Homo sapiens: one gene and its partner. The protein of the gene in region 2 purifies or fractionates together with the protein of the main gene of each other region. This does not show direct contact. Each region holds a gene or a part of one and is shown on either strand. Other genes may lie near its edges.

Region 1 (7,985 bases), on a different chromosome or scaffold from region 2:
GTGTGCCCCAAAATTCTGCTCTAGTGAAAGTAAGGACTTCCTCCAGCACCTCATATTAAGCCATTCAAATTTATCACTGTGGATCATCTAATTCTATACATGGATCAAGTATCTTTTTCTACAAAAACTTCTGTAAAGAAAAGCCAGGTGCAGTGGCCTGGGCCTGTCGTCCCAGATGCTTGGGAGGCTGAGGTGGGAGGATAACTTGAGGGCAGGAGCCTGAGGCTGCAGTGAGCTATGATTACGCCTGTGAATAGCCAGTGCAGTCCAGCCTGGGCAACATCGTGAGACCCCATCTTTAAAACAAAAAAAATCGTGGCTCACGCCTGTAATCCCAGCACTTGGGAGGCCGAGACGGGTGGATCAGGAGGTCAGGAATTCAAGACCAGCCTGGCGAAGATGTTTCTCTACTAAAAATACAAAAAAACTAGCCAGGCATGGTGGCAGGCGCCTGTAATCCCAGCTACGCAGGAGGCTGAGGCAGAGAATTGCTTGAACACGGGAGGCAGAGGTTGGAGTGAGCCGAGATCGCGCCACTGCACTCCAGCCTGGGCAACAGAGCAAGACTTGGTCTCAAAAAAAAAAAAAAACAAAAAACAAAAAACTTCTGTAAAGAAATTTCAGAAGCTTATTTAAAAAAAAGCATTATAAGTTGTCTGATTTGAGAAAATAAAAGAGCCTTTTCTCATGAGAATTATCAAAGACTTCTCACCAACTGAACAATCACTGCTGCGTCACATGCAGACAATTCAACGGAATCAAAAAATACACAGAAGCCTCGCAGACTCACCTGGGATGTGCAGACTTGGGCCTGCTGTCCTACTGCGGCATGGAACCAGGATCTTAACGGAGGGCTGAGTTTGGTTGGGCAGGTGCTACGCGGAGCTCCTGAATGTAAGCGCTCCTGGACTGTGGCCTGTTCAAACACCGAAGCCGCAGAGCGGGCGTCAGAGCCTGTGGGAGGGACAGGGAGACCATCAGTGGAGGCGACTCTTCCTGTGCCTTCTCTTCAGCTACTTCCCAGGGATGCGGCGCGCACCGGGAACCCTCTACCACGAAAAAGCCGTCCAAGGAGCATCCACGCGTGCACTCAGGATGAGGCGGGTGGACCGTACTACCTCATCACCAGTTGTTGTAATGCACACGATATGAACACCTTAACCTTGACCCCAGACAAGCCCAGAGAAGGAAAACCTCCCCAACACCTGCCAGTCAGCTCCAGTCTAATCTTATTTCCAAAGAGTAAGAGGTAATAAATCCCCAAGTTTTGGATTTAATGAACCAGTAAAACTTCAATAACAACAACAACAAACCTCAGGGAGTAATAGGAGTTGCCAAAATTTTGCTTTGCTAAGTGTGGATTTTCTCTTTCATTACCATCTACGATCACTATGATTACATAAAATTAAGGTTCGTAAAAACAGTTTACAGTGAAAACATTCAAACACACAGATGGAGAACCGCACAGGGAGCACATGAGCCCCCCTTATTCAGCCTCAGTAACTACATCTGACCCATCCTGAGTCACTTCCCATCCCCAGGTAATTCTACAGCAAATCTCAGACCTATGACTTCATCCATAAATAAAAGCATACCAACTCCCGAAAAATGTGTAAGGAAATGATCTCAGAATAAAAGCCATCTACAAAGTGAAGACATCCAGTCGTATTAAAAACTCCCCACAATATCACTGCTTTCGGTTAGGACTCACATCTACCCTGGAAGGTGAGAACTCTGTCATGCACAACCAACGCTTGAGAACCACTTAGGGAGGGGATAAACGAACCTTGGGAGATGTAACCCAGTTTCACTCGAGATAAGTAACTTTGAACTTAACCCACTCCTTAATGTAGATGCAGAGATTTTGAACACAATTTTTCAAGTGGGACAGGTCAATCTCTACTTCACCAATTCCACCTAAAACATTAAGCAATAACCTAAACAACGCTCGCTCGCTCTCTGACGTGTAGGAGCCCGAGACAAGTGTTCCTGTAATCACTAGCAATCCCTCCGACGCACACACCATCCACACTCTACCCAACTCAGGAAGGATGCTCTCTCTTGTCCAAGGACAGCACAGGCCTCATCCACATTTCCACCTGCGCGAACCCCAGCCAGCACCATTTAGGCTCATTCCCGCTCCCTCCTCCTTCTAAAGTCACTTTTCCAGGATGAACTGCAACGGACGCTCGCAGGGTCAACCACGTGCTGGGGAGAGGAGCCCACGGAAGCAGCGGCCTCCCGGGGCCCAGCGCCGCGCTCCAGGGGCCTCCCGGGCGACTCCGCAGCGCCTGCCCCGAGCCCGGCCGCGGACACAGCGACCCGAGCACCTCTCCCCGAGCATGGCTCCGTGGCGAGCGTTACGTAAACGGGGGCGCGCGGAGTCTCCCCTCTCGTGTGTCTGGGTTTGGCGGCCGCCACTCCAGCCCCAGGCCCAGGACCCCCACGCCACCCGCCAGAAGCAGCAGCATCGGAACCGCACCCCGCCCCGGGCTCCATGGCCTCCTCCGCAACCACGAGGAAGGTGCCCGCCCCGGGGCCGCACCCGCCCCGCTGAGCTCTGCGGCCGCACGCGACGCCCTCGCCCTGATTCCGACTTCAACCTCTCCGAAGTTGACCTGAATCCTGCACAGACAGCGGGCCCCGGCGACCCCCATCACCGGCCCGGAGCCCGGGGGACGGCGGAGACCGGCGAGGACAGCCCGGCCCCGGACCCTCCTCGGGAATACCCGGGCTCTGGAGAAGCGAGCTCGCGAGCGGGCGGAGCATCCCGGGTCCTCCTCGGGGACGGCCGAAGCCCTGCGCGGACCCGCGCCCACGTTCTCCCTGAGCGTCCCGGCTGCGCCCGCCAGCCCTTCCCGCGCCCCAGGCCTCGCGGAACCCCCCGCCCCGGTCTCGTCCCCAGGCCTGCGCACCGCCCCGACCCGACCCCAGCCTACCCCGGCCTCTCCGCGGGCGCGCCACAAGCCTACGCAGCCCTGGCGACTCCTTCGGCCCGCGGCCCAGCACGCGCACCATCCGGGCCTCCGGCGCCTCACACACGTGTCACCGCGACGCTTAAAGGCGCCGCACCCAGCGTTCGCGCTGCGCTAACTCCGAAAGGGTTGGGAGGCTTTAAGAGGCGGGGCTAGATTCCGCTAACTCCCTGTCCCCGCCCACCGCCGCTTCCGTGTCGCCTACGTCACCTCCCCATCACGGGACCCCGCCAGCCTACGTGATGACGCAAGTGCGCAGAGCCACAGGCGCTCCCGCCCCTGTGCCGCGGCAGGGTGACGTCTCCGCAGCGCACTAGAGGTGCCGCTACTTCCGGGTCGGCCGAGCACACCTGGCGGCGTGGCGGACGCCTGAAGTGTGACAGTGGCGCGCGCCCCCGCCCCAGAACGGGGACTCGAGGGACTTTGCCCACCCCTGCAACAGCCCTCCCGCGCTGTCTCCCGGGCAGGGAGAAGGCTGGGCTCCCCCACCTGCCCCTGGCCGTCAGGTGGCTGTGGAGAAGCGGAGGCGCGGGCGCTCGGCCTTAACGTCCCGGGCTCTGGGGCCATCCGTGACTCCCACACGCGGAGCACCTGCAGTTTGGGGAGGGAGGGATCTGGGAGCGATCGGCCAAAGCCTGGGGCTGCCGAGGAAATGGCTCTTCGGAATTAGGGATCTGAGAGTGTGAGATTTGACCTTTGTAGGCTGGTGGCGGCTGTGCAATCTCTAGCTCCACCCACTCCCTCCAAAAGCTTTGTCCTCTGACAGCTCTGCGAAGGTTTTAGCTGAGTATTTGTGAGCACGTATTTCTTTTGCAGTATTTTTAAAAATCCTCTTGATCTGAGGCAACTTCGCTGGCTTCCTCCCCATTCCCTTGGGCAGGTTGAGAGTGTTGGTTCCTGGCCTGACCTCAGAAACTCAGAGAAGCACAGGATGGGCATAAACTACTTTATCCAAAAGGCAGAACTTTGCAAACACAGTCGTATCTGCTGTGTCTTTTTTGATGTAAGTAGGAATGATGAGTAGGGTGAAGTCACAGGTAAACAACCCAAAACGAATTTCCATGCCCTCCCCACGGATCCTAAAGCAGGGACTGGAGATGGGGAGAGAGGCTAGATGTACTTGGAACAAAATTCACCTTGTATTTATTACCTGGGCGCTGGTGTTTTTTGAAAAAAGCAAACAAGATAACCATATTAGTCTGATGCTGAGACTATGCCCTATCTGTAAGAATCCTTGGGCTGGGCGCGGTGGCTCACCCTTGTAATCCCAACACTTGGAGGCCAAGGTGGGCGGATCACCTGAGGTCAGGAGTTCGAGACCAGCATGGCCAACATGGTGAAACCCCGTCTCTACTAAACATACAAAAATTAGCTGGGTGTGGTGGTGGGCGCCTGTAATCCCAGCTACTCAGGAGGCTGAGGCACGAGAATCCCTTGAACCTAGGAGGCGGAGGTTGCAGCGAGCTGAGATGTCGCCACTGCACTCCAGCCTGGGCGACAGAGCGAGACTCCGTCTCAAAAGAAAAGAAAAGAAAAGAAAAAAAGGCAGGGCACAGTGGCTCACGCCTGTAATCCTAGCACTTTGGGAGGCCGAGGCAGGCAGATCGCTTGAGGTCAGGAATTCCAGACCAGCCTGGCCAACATGGTGAAAACCTGTCTCTACTAAAAATACAAAAATTAGCTGGGTATGGTGGCGCACGCCTGTAATCCGAGCTACTAGGGAGGCTGAGACAGGAGAATCGCTTGTACCTGGGAGGTGGAGGTTGCAATGAGCTGAGATCGTGCCATTGCACTCCAGCAGCCTGGACAACAGAGCAATACTTGGTCTAAAAAAAAAAAAAAGAAAGAAATGCAACGTAGGTCTCTCACGAAATTAGCCCAAATCTTCAGCCATCTTCTACAGGCTGTGAAACCAGGAGAGGAATTGAGTCCATCTTACCTTGACCTCCCAGGCAGGGAGCGGACCAGGTAATTTTTGGGTGACAATACAACTATTCTGTTAATGCACCTTTTTCTTGAGGTAAGTTCTAATGTGATCCGTTTTGGTTACAGCTTTCTATAACAGAATATTTTATTCTTTCATCTTTAATGTTTCTCTAGTTTTCTCTTTTAGGATTTAGAGATCATTCAGTCTCATCTCAAATATTTCAATTTCCATGTGGTTCTTTCATAAACATTTATCCACAGTGAGCCTGCCCTGCATTCTTTGGGTGTGGCTGACAGTTGCAGCCACCCTCAGGTCTGCGGGGGTGGGTGTGTTGCCCCTGAACTGCAATAGCAGAATTTCTCCCTAGCCTGGCAGGGGAGTGCAATCGTGGACTTGCTTTTCCACCCGCTGGGGTTGCATTTCATAGGTGCCGAGTGCCTGGGGGGCCCAGGCCTTTTCACATGAGGGTTTTCAGCCCAGATGTCCCTCCTGCTCTAGGGGAACCCTTCACATCAGTCAGGTGACTTGCTGGACTGGTAGAGCCTCTGCCATCAGCCTCTGATGCAAAACCTTTTCTCAGGTGTCTGTGCGGTCCATGGAGACCCGAGTTCCCAGGTTTGGGAGGGATGCCACTTTCCTTAGGAAGAACAGCAATGTATGTCGTCCTTCCCATCCATGCAGATGGGACAGGGCTCTCAGGAAATCTGCCATTAGCATCGCCCTAGAAGATGCACAGGCAGAGGCAGCTGCTGGGCACAGGCACTTGGGGAAGACAGGAGCCATGACGCCACGCCACCTGTTGGTACCCAAAGGAAGTGGCTCTTTTGGCTGCTTGGCACCATTCTTATGACCCTTCCATTTTGTTTCTAGTCTCAGAAGGGGTGGAGAAAGTCATCCTTCCTAAATGGTGTTGACTCTCAGACATCTGACCGTGCCAGGAGAATGGCTGTGCAAGGCGGCAGCCCAGGCCCGGGCAGGTGGCGGCCAGGAGTTGGGACCACAGAGGGCACTAGCAAGAGCAGCAGCTGCTCCGAGATGCTTTGGCACAAGTCAGGATACGTATTTTGTAGTTTTCTCTTGTTTTTTATTTTTCTGAGGTGGAGTCTCACTCTGTCGCCCAGGCTGGAGTGCAGTGGTGCAATCTCAGCTCACTGCAAGCTCCGCCTCCCGGGTTCAAGCGATTATCGTGTCTCGGCCTCCAGAGTAGCTGGGATCACAGGTGCACGCCACCACACCCAGCTGATTTTTGTATTTTTAGTAGAGATGGGGTTTCGCCATGTTTGGTCTTGAACTCTTGGCCTCAGGTGATCTGCCCCCCTCAGCCTCCCAGAGTGCAAGGATTACAGGCGTGAGCCACCGCACCCCACCTCCCGGCCTTTTCTCTTGTTTCATTTTGGTAAACTAAATTAGTTTAATACCTCTACCCCATCGGTGGTTGGAATTCCCCACCTCAATCATTTTGGGGGCTCTCTGCCTCCTTTGAATAGGACAGATCTCCAGGGGTTTACCCAGGCTCCGAAGAGCCACTCCAGGCAGCCGGCTGTTTGGGGAGGTGCACCCTGGTCTTCTAGTCTGCGGATTCCCTGCATCGCTCCCCTGGTACTGCTCTCAAGCTCAAGGGTCACCTCAGCCAGATGTGCCCTAGGCTGGCAGAGGTCCTTCCCCTAAATGCAGCTGGGCAGGATGCCACCCTTTCTACAATAAGTTCGGTCCCAGGGATTCCCCCAACACACACACACATACATTCTCTCTTACTCACATCCTCACACACACTCACACACCCCACCACACTCACACACTTTCAAAATCCACCGACTCTCACGCTCACACTCGCCAGCCCTTTCCCTTGCTCTGTCACTTCCCTCCAAGTCCCCGCCCCACACAGCCTCCTGCAGTCCCAGCCCCCTTGGTGCCAGCCATCTCTGGTGCCAGCCATCTCCCCCAAATATCCACCCTTCTGGGCTCCTTTCTGCCCAGAGGGACCTGAAGTTTCCCTAGGAAGCACTTGCTAAAGGCCTCCAGTCTCCAACTCCTGGGGAAGAAGGATCCAGGCCTCTGCCGCACAAAGCCTCCACTGTTCTCTTGGGGCTGGCACCCCTTCCTGTGGCCCTGTGGCACCAAACAAATTGATTCATCCAGCGAATATTTCTTATTTACTCTGTTCCACATGGTGGTGAGTGAATCAACCCTGGACTCTCCCCACAAAGGACTTAAGAACACGCAGGTCATGAACAAATGAACACTTTTGCATAATTTTTATGACCAACGGTGACCAGGCCAAGAGCAGGATGAGGTGATGGAGAATACCTTGGCCTGGGGCATCGGAGGAAACTCTTGCGAGGATGTGCTACCTCCGTTGAAAGTGGGAAGATGAGAGACCGGCTGTAAGAGGAGCAAGGGAAGGAGGTTCTGGAATGAGAGAACAGCACGAACAAAATGCCCGAGACAGGAGCGAGCTTGGCACCTTCAAGAAAATAAAGAGGAGAATCACTGAACCTGGCACGTGGAGGTTGCAATGAGCTGAGATCGCGCCACTGCACTCCAGCCTGCGAGACAGAGCGAGACTCCATCTCAAAAAAAAAAAAAAAAAAAAAAAGGAAAGAAAAGGAGGCCATTGGGATGGCTGAGGCTGGAAGGGTGGACCAGGTGCCCCACAGGCAAGAGGTCCCAACTATAGATGAAGCACGCAGGCTACAGACAGGTGAGTGGTGCCTCGGGTGAGAGGCAAGTTTGTCTCCATAGGTCATCCTGCTACACGGAATTCTCCAGAATCCCCTGCAAAGGTGTAGATGGGCTGGGTGCAGTAGCTCATGCCTCTAATCCCAGCACTTTGGGAGGTCGAGTCGGGCGGATCACCTTGAGGTCAGAAGTTCAAGACCAGCCTGACTAACATGGTGAAACCCTGTCTCAACTAGAATACAAAAATTAGCTGGGCATGGTGGCATTTGCCTGTAGTCCCATCTACTCAGGAGGCTGAGGCAGGAGAATTGCTTGAACCCGGGAGGTGGAGGTTGCAGTGAGCCGAGATCGCGCCACCGCACTCCAGCCTTGGTGACAGAGCGAGACTCTGTCTCAAAAAAAAA
Region 2 (7,020 bases):
GATCGAGACCATCCTGGCTAACACGGTGAAACCCCGTCTCTACTAAAAAATACAAAAAATTAGCTGGGCGTGGTGGCGGGCACCTGTAGTCCCAGCTACTTGGGAGGCTGAGGCAGGAGAATGGCGTGAACCCGGGAGGTGGAGCTTGCAGTGAGCCGAGATTGCACCACTGCACTCCAGCCTGGGCGACAGAGCAAGACTCCGTCTCAAAAAAAAAAAAAAAAAAAAGTCATGGAATTTACAGAGCAAGAATAAAAAGGACTAAGGAAAGCCAGAGAGAGAAAATACCCAGAGTATATCACAGAAGCTAGAGGGGAGAGATTTTTAGAATGAAATGTGCCAATGGTGTCAAATATGCTAAAGACTAAGAGGGCTTGGGATTTGGCAATTCGGAGGCCCCTCACTAATGCCTTTTGAGAGAAGTTTCAGTAGGGCAGTAGGGGAAGAAGGTGAGAGAGAGGAGGCAGCAGTGGAGACAGACCAGCTCTTCCCCAAACACATTTCTCATCAGATAACAAGATTTGCCTCCCCTGTTAAAAGCTTAAAATTCAATTTTTTTGAAATTTTAATAAAATCAGTTTGTACACCCTAAGTTAAATTAGATCCAACAGGTGTCTTCACCATTGTTTCATAGCCTTTTTTTTTTTTTTTTTTTGAGACAGAGTCTCGCTCTGTCGCCCAGGCTGGAGTGCAGTGGCACGATCTTGGTTCACTGCAAGCTCCGCCTCCCAGGTTCATGCCATTCTCCTGCCTCAGCCTCCCAAGTAGCTGGGACTATAGGCGCCCGCCACCGTGCCCAGCTAATTTTTTATATTTTTAGTAGAGACGGGGTTTCACCGTGTTAGCCAGGATGGTCTCGATCTCCTGACCTTGTGATCCACCCACCTCAGCCTCCCAAAGTGCTGGGATTACAGGCGTGAGCCACCACGCCCGGCCCATAGCCTTTATTTTTATTTTTTATTTTTGAGACAGAGTCTCACTCTGTTGCCCAGGTTGGAGTACAGTGGCCCAACCTTGGCTTACTGCAACCTCCGCCTCCTGGGTTCAAGCGATTCTGGTGCCTCAGCCTCTTGAGTAGCTGGGATTACAGGCATAAGCCACCACGTCCAGCTAATTTTTTAATATTTTTTAGTAGAGACGATGTTTTGCCACGTTGGTCAGGCTGGTCTCAAACTCCTAACCTCAGGTGATCCACCCGCCTTAGCCTTCCAAAGTGCTGGGATTACAGGCGTGAGCCACCACATCCGTCTGGCCTGTTTCATAGACTTTAAAATGCTAAAGCATGTTGTGACTCTCCGATCTCCAGTAGGGGCATGCAGCATTTTCTAGCAATGCCTCCTCTCCTCCTCTTGTGAAGGCATAATGAGAGACTAAGGTTTCAAGGAGAATGCCTTGGGAAATACCACTGTAGACAGAGAATAGTGAGGAGAGGGGTGAAAGAAGTTACCTCACAGCATTTCTAGCACTTTGCAGTTTACAAATGCCTTCTCATGCATTATCCCACTTAATTATTTGCAGCTAAACAAAATTTTAGGGAGCTGGACCAAAACTATAGTACAGACTTTCGATTTTCTTTTCTTTTTTTTGGGGGAGGGCGGGGAAAGAGTAGAGGGTTTTTTTTTTTCCTCAGGCTGGAGTGCAGTGGCGTGATCTCGGCTCACTGTACCTTCTGCCTCCTGGATTCAAGAAATTCCCCTGCCTCAGCCTCCTCAGCAGCTGAGACTACAGGCATGTGCTACCATGCCCGGCTAATTTACATATTTTTAGTAAAGACGAGGTTTCACCATGTTGGCCAGGCTGGTCTTGAACTCCTGACCTCAGGTGATCCACCTGCCTCAGCCTCCCAAAGTGCTTGGATTATAGGCGTGAGCCACCGTGCCTGGTCTGAGACTTGATATTCAGTTTCTAGAAATCCTAATACAGCATATACTAGTTGTTGGTACTTTGCAATCTAAGTTGTAAGGAGAGACCTAGGAGTTGCTAGCCACAAAGCACCCTCTGAACTAAGCACTTCCTTATTTCTCTGTGCCCTACTAGCATAATTTCTCAAAAGTCAGTCTTAGAATGAATGAACGGCATGGTATATTCAATGTATGACATCTGAGCCTCACTCTATCTTGAAGAGGTTGTTCTATTCTTAGTGTAACCTCCTCCACTACCATCTAGTTTTTATTTTTTATTTATTTATATATATATTTTGAGACAGAGTCTCATTCTATTGCACAGGCTGGAGTGCAGTGGCACAATCTCGGCTCACTGCAACCTCCGCCTCCCAGGTTCAAGTGATCCTCCTGCCTCAGCCCCCCTAGTAGCTGGGATTACAGGCACACACCACCATGCCCCGCTAATTTTTGTATTTTTAGTAGAGATGGGGTTTCGCCATGTTGGCCAGGATGGTCTCAAACTCCTGACCTCAGGTGATCCACCTGCCTCGGCCTCCCAAAGTGCTGGGATTACAGGCGTGAGCCACCACACCCGGCCCCATCTCGTTTTTAATAACAAACTTGGCATTTTCCTGCTATCTCCAAGATTACACTGTCATTTGGAAAAAGCAAGGTGGAGGACAGTGTGTAGTAGCATGCTACCCTTCTTTTTATTTAAAAAGGAGGTAAACATGAATATAGAAATAAAACTCTAAGACAACAACAACAGCAAACTTATGCAAGTGGTTACTTCTGGGTGAGTATGGGGGTAAAAATGATCAGATGGGGCACGGGTGGAATCAAACTTTTCACTACATATCTTCTATGCTTTTTTATTTTTGAATCCTACAAATTGTATTACCTCTGATTTTTTTTTTCTAAAGTCTCCCTTCATCCTGCAGCCACACTTTAAACCTGATCTCTTTTTCATGTAGAAAAGGAAGCCTCCTAGAAAGAGAATGGTAGTGACTTCAGCAAAAACATCAGAAACAGCTTATCCCCATAATAAGCAACTACTCGCTCAATTTCTAGCTATTGTGGCAAGCAATGTTTACTTTGATTAGCTTTAATTAGCTCAACTTCCCAACGCCTAAGAAACTACCATTCTTGGGTTTTTGGAAAGTAAAGAGGAGAAGCACAAAGAGGGCATCTATTTAAGACTAATCAGCCCATTATAGACTCCATACCAATGGTGTATTGGAAAAGTAGGCTAGCTGTTCTAAAGCAGTTATTCGGACTAAAAACCGGACTTCAGGGACCAACATAGGATTTCCAACTTCTAATTTTGCCAAGAGCATAACTACCATTTCACCCCCAATCCCATCATTTACTACCACCATCATTTCATAGAAGAAAAGATATTTCAACACCATTAAAATAGAATAACCTCATAATAAAAAAGAACTGGCAACATTACACCCACCAAACAAACATACTTAGAATTATCCTTTTGCTTCAGACACAAACTTTGTTAGGGGTCAGTGTTTGGGAAACCCAGCTCTAAAACATCAACCCCTGCCCTGCAGCTCAGAGTCATAGTAAGTTACCTGCTGAAGTTCTAGTCATTGCCAGCAACACATTATATTTTAATGCGGTATTCCTGTACAAGCAAAGTTTGGCTTCTGTTGTTCACATATCCTCACTAAGGCATCATTAATGTTATCGAGTTCCTGATTTCCCTAGGATCAGAATGTGGCTTTAAATGCTTTTTAAAAACTGGGGTAAAAGAAAGAAAACATTATTATGTTCCTGCTATACGGGCAATCACATGGTTTAACACAAAAACATGGAAATAGCAAGTACTGTATACTACAAGCAGATGAAAAGTGACACAGAGACCGGGCGCATTGGCTCATGCCCGTAATCACAAAACTTTTGGGAGACTGAGGTGGGCGGATCATTTGAGGTCAGGAGTTTGAGATCAGCCTGGCCAACATGGTGAAACCCCATCTCTACTAAAAATCCAAAAAAAAAAAAATTAGCTGGGCGTGTTGGTGCACGCCAGTAATCCCAGCTACTTGGGAGGCTGAGGCAGGAGAATTGCTTGAACCCAGGAGGCAGAGGTTGCAGTGAGCTGAGATCGTGCCACTGCACTCCAGCCTGGGCGACAGAGCAAGACCCTGTCTCAAGAAAAAAAAAAAAAAAGTGATCACAGAGCTATTGTGACTGGCTATCACATGACTGACAATGACGATGGGCAACCCCTTCTTTCTGAGCACTAAGCTAAAATGACTTATGCTGGGGTTTAGCTTAACATGTCCAATCAAATCAATTGCAGGCTCTGAAATCTCCAACTTATAAAATCTCACCTTTCAGTTTCATTTTGTTGTACTCACCTTCCAGCCACTGAGCACATGTTCAATGGGAGCAATGGCTGGCTCCTCTTTCTCCAGGGGAAAAACCAGCTGCTCTGCCTGCCGGTTCTTCAGGACGACAGGGTCCCATTTGGAGAGGACTTGTGCGGTTTTATTGAATGCTACTTCTCTGTGGATCTGAAGCAGGCAAGGCATGTAAACGGAAAGAGCCACAAGATTAAAGCATCAAACCCAAAGGACTAACAAGAAATTAGGAAGCAACATTTCTTAGCCCAAGAAAGAATCAGGATGCTAGAATCAGGATGAAAGAATCAGGATGCTAGTCCTCTTGCTTCTCAGGACTGCAATTTCTCCTAGATTATTATTATTATTTAGATGGAGTTTCACTCGTGTTGCCCAGGCTGGAGAGCAATGGTGCAATCTCAGCTCACTGCAACCTCCACGTCCTGGTTCAAGGGATTCTCCTGCCTCAGCCTCCCAAGTAGCTGGGATTACACCACACCCGGCTAATTTTGTATTTTTAGTAGAGACGGGGTTTCACCATGTTGGACAGGCTGGTCTCGAACTCCTGACCTCAGGTGATCCGCCTACCTCAGCCTCCCAAAGTGCTGGGATTACAGACGTGAGCCACCGCGCCTGGCACTCCTAGATTATTTTTAATCTTATCCATAGTGGGGAAATCACAACTCCCCCTTCTCCCATTTTTCAGGTCTTTCCCTTCTTTCTATTACCCTATTTTCCCTTGTCAATTCAATTTCTTTCCCTTAATAGACCACCTTCTCTGTAGCTTACCCGTTCAATCTCTTCTTTGTTCAGAGGTAACTCCACTGTCTTCTTTGATTTGACTCTACTCAGTTGCTTTTTCACAGTGGCCAAAGAAGATGAAGTTTTAACAGGCTCAAGCAGATCTGCAAGGACCAGCTTTTCTCCTGATCCTGTGGAAAGGTCAAACTTTCTGGTCAGACCAAGAAGTGAGACAAGATCTCAATATAATGTAGGGAGAAGCCTCAGTAGAAAATGCCAGTAGATGGCAAATGTGCAGAGAAGCAAGAATAATTCTCTTACTTCAATTGCCTATTTCTAGCCATGCCAACACTATCACTCTTCTACATTCATCCCCAAACGTGTTAGGGGGTAGAAGATAGGGGAAAATATTTATTCAAAACTCATTTGCTTTTCTCCTGGTGCTTCTACTCTTGCCCCATTGCAATTCATTCTTCACATAACAGCCAAAAATAAAAACAGCCAAAGTGATCTTTTTGCTGTTGTTGTTGTTTGTTTTGAGACAGGGTCTCACTCTGTCACTTAGGCTGGAGAGCAGTGGTGCCATCTCTGCCTCCCAGGCTCAGGCAATCCTCCCAAGTAGCTGGCACTATAGGCGCGTGCCACCACGCGTGGTTAATTTTTTTAATTTTTTTTTTGTAGAGATGGGGTTTTGCCATGTTGCCCAGGCCAGCCTCAAATGGCTGGGCTGAAGCAGTCCGCCCACCTCGGCCTCCCAAAGTGCTGGAGATTACAGGTGTAAACCACTGTATCCAGCCCAAAATTATCTTTCGAAAATATAAACCACAGCATGTCATGACCCTGCTGAAAATCCTCCAGTGACTCCCCATTATACTTTGAATCTCATCTACCTAAAGGACATGGTCCTATGAGATCTAATCCCCATCTGCCTCTCTAACCTCATATCAACCCCCACCCTCTAGAATGCTTTTGTCACAGGGGCCTCTTTCCTATTCTTCAACATGTTGTGCATGTTTCTACCTTAGAGCCTTTGTGCTAGCTGTTCCTTGGCCTGAAATGCTTTCCCCAATCTTTGCATGGTTGACTTGACTTGTCATTCAGATCTCGGCTTCAATTTTGCCTCTTCAGGGGCCTTTCATGACCAACCGATCTAAAGTAGCCACTTAGTTGCTTTACTGCATCATCCTCTCTTATTGTCTCCCTTCATTAGAATGTAAACCCCATGAGCTCACATCTTATTCGCTACTTTAACCTTGGTATCTACAACAGTTCCTGATACTGCTACCTAGTAGAAACACAATAAATATCCACTGAATAAGTACGCTTGGAATACATTGTTATTTGCCCTAGGAGGCTACACCAGTGATTACTACAAATGCAAGACCCATTCTAGCTGCCTAAGTTGTGAACAGGGTGAAAAAGATTTGGCATCTAGACTCAGTATTAGGATAAAATCCCATGGCTGCCGCTTATTAGAGCATGTATTCTGAACAGGGGCAATTTTACCACCCCGCCACCCCAGGGTGAAAATTGGTTCTTTCTGGGAGAGTATGAAAAAAATCTTAGATATTACAATGTTTTGTGTCCCTCCAAGGCTCAACTCTGTCCAACAAACTCTTATTCCTTAGGACTTGATTTCCTGGGGAAGGGGCACAGGGGGAGGGATACAATGAGGAAAAAAATGTCTTGAGGCCGCGCACGGTGGCTCACGCCTGTAATCCCAGCACTTTGAGAGGCTGCGGCGGGTGGATCACGAGGTCAGGAGATCCAGACCATCCTGGCTAACACGGTGAAACCCCGTCTCTACTAAAAATACAAAAAACTAGCCAGGCGCGGTGGCGGGCACCTGTAGTCCCAGATACTCGGGAGGCTGAGGAAGGAGAATGGCGTGAACCTGGGAGGCGGAGTTTGCAGTGAGCCAAGATCGCACCACTGCACTCCAGCCTGGGCGATAGAGTGAGACTCTGTCTCAAAAAAAAAAAAAAAAAAAAAGGCTTGAAAGGCTCCTCTCAGGGGAGCAATAAAAAAGCAAAGGTTGA

The links. Proteins that work in one complex are often made in the same cells at the same time.
Region 1: the proteins of UTP14A (region 2) and USP36 purify together in Homo sapiens (affinity purification with mass spectrometry; 2 studies listed by BioGRID). This does not show direct contact.

Annotation. Positions count from the first base shown.
Region 1 is NC_000017.11:78,837,797-78,845,781, forward strand, and holds the start of USP36 (ubiquitin carboxyl-terminal hydrolase 36), read right to left. Parts: upstream 3,019-7,985; 5' UTR 2,940-3,018; exon of another isoform or gene 2,483-2,939; intron 2,215-2,482; exon of another isoform or gene 2,043-2,214; intron 955-2,042; 5' UTR 791-954; intron 1-790. UniProt on the Homo sapiens protein: Deubiquitinase essential for the regulation of nucleolar structure and function. Required for cell and organism viability.
Region 2 is NC_000023.11:129,909,160-129,916,179, reverse strand, and holds part of UTP14A (U3 small nucleolar RNA-associated protein 14 homolog A), read right to left. Parts: intron 5,173-7,020; coding exon 5,030-5,172; intron 4,415-5,029; coding exon 4,259-4,414; intron 3,602-4,258; exon of another isoform or gene 3,489-3,601; coding exon of another isoform or gene 3,470-3,488; intron 2,871-3,469; coding exon of another isoform or gene 2,785-2,870; intron 1-2,784. UniProt on the Homo sapiens protein: May be required for ribosome biogenesis.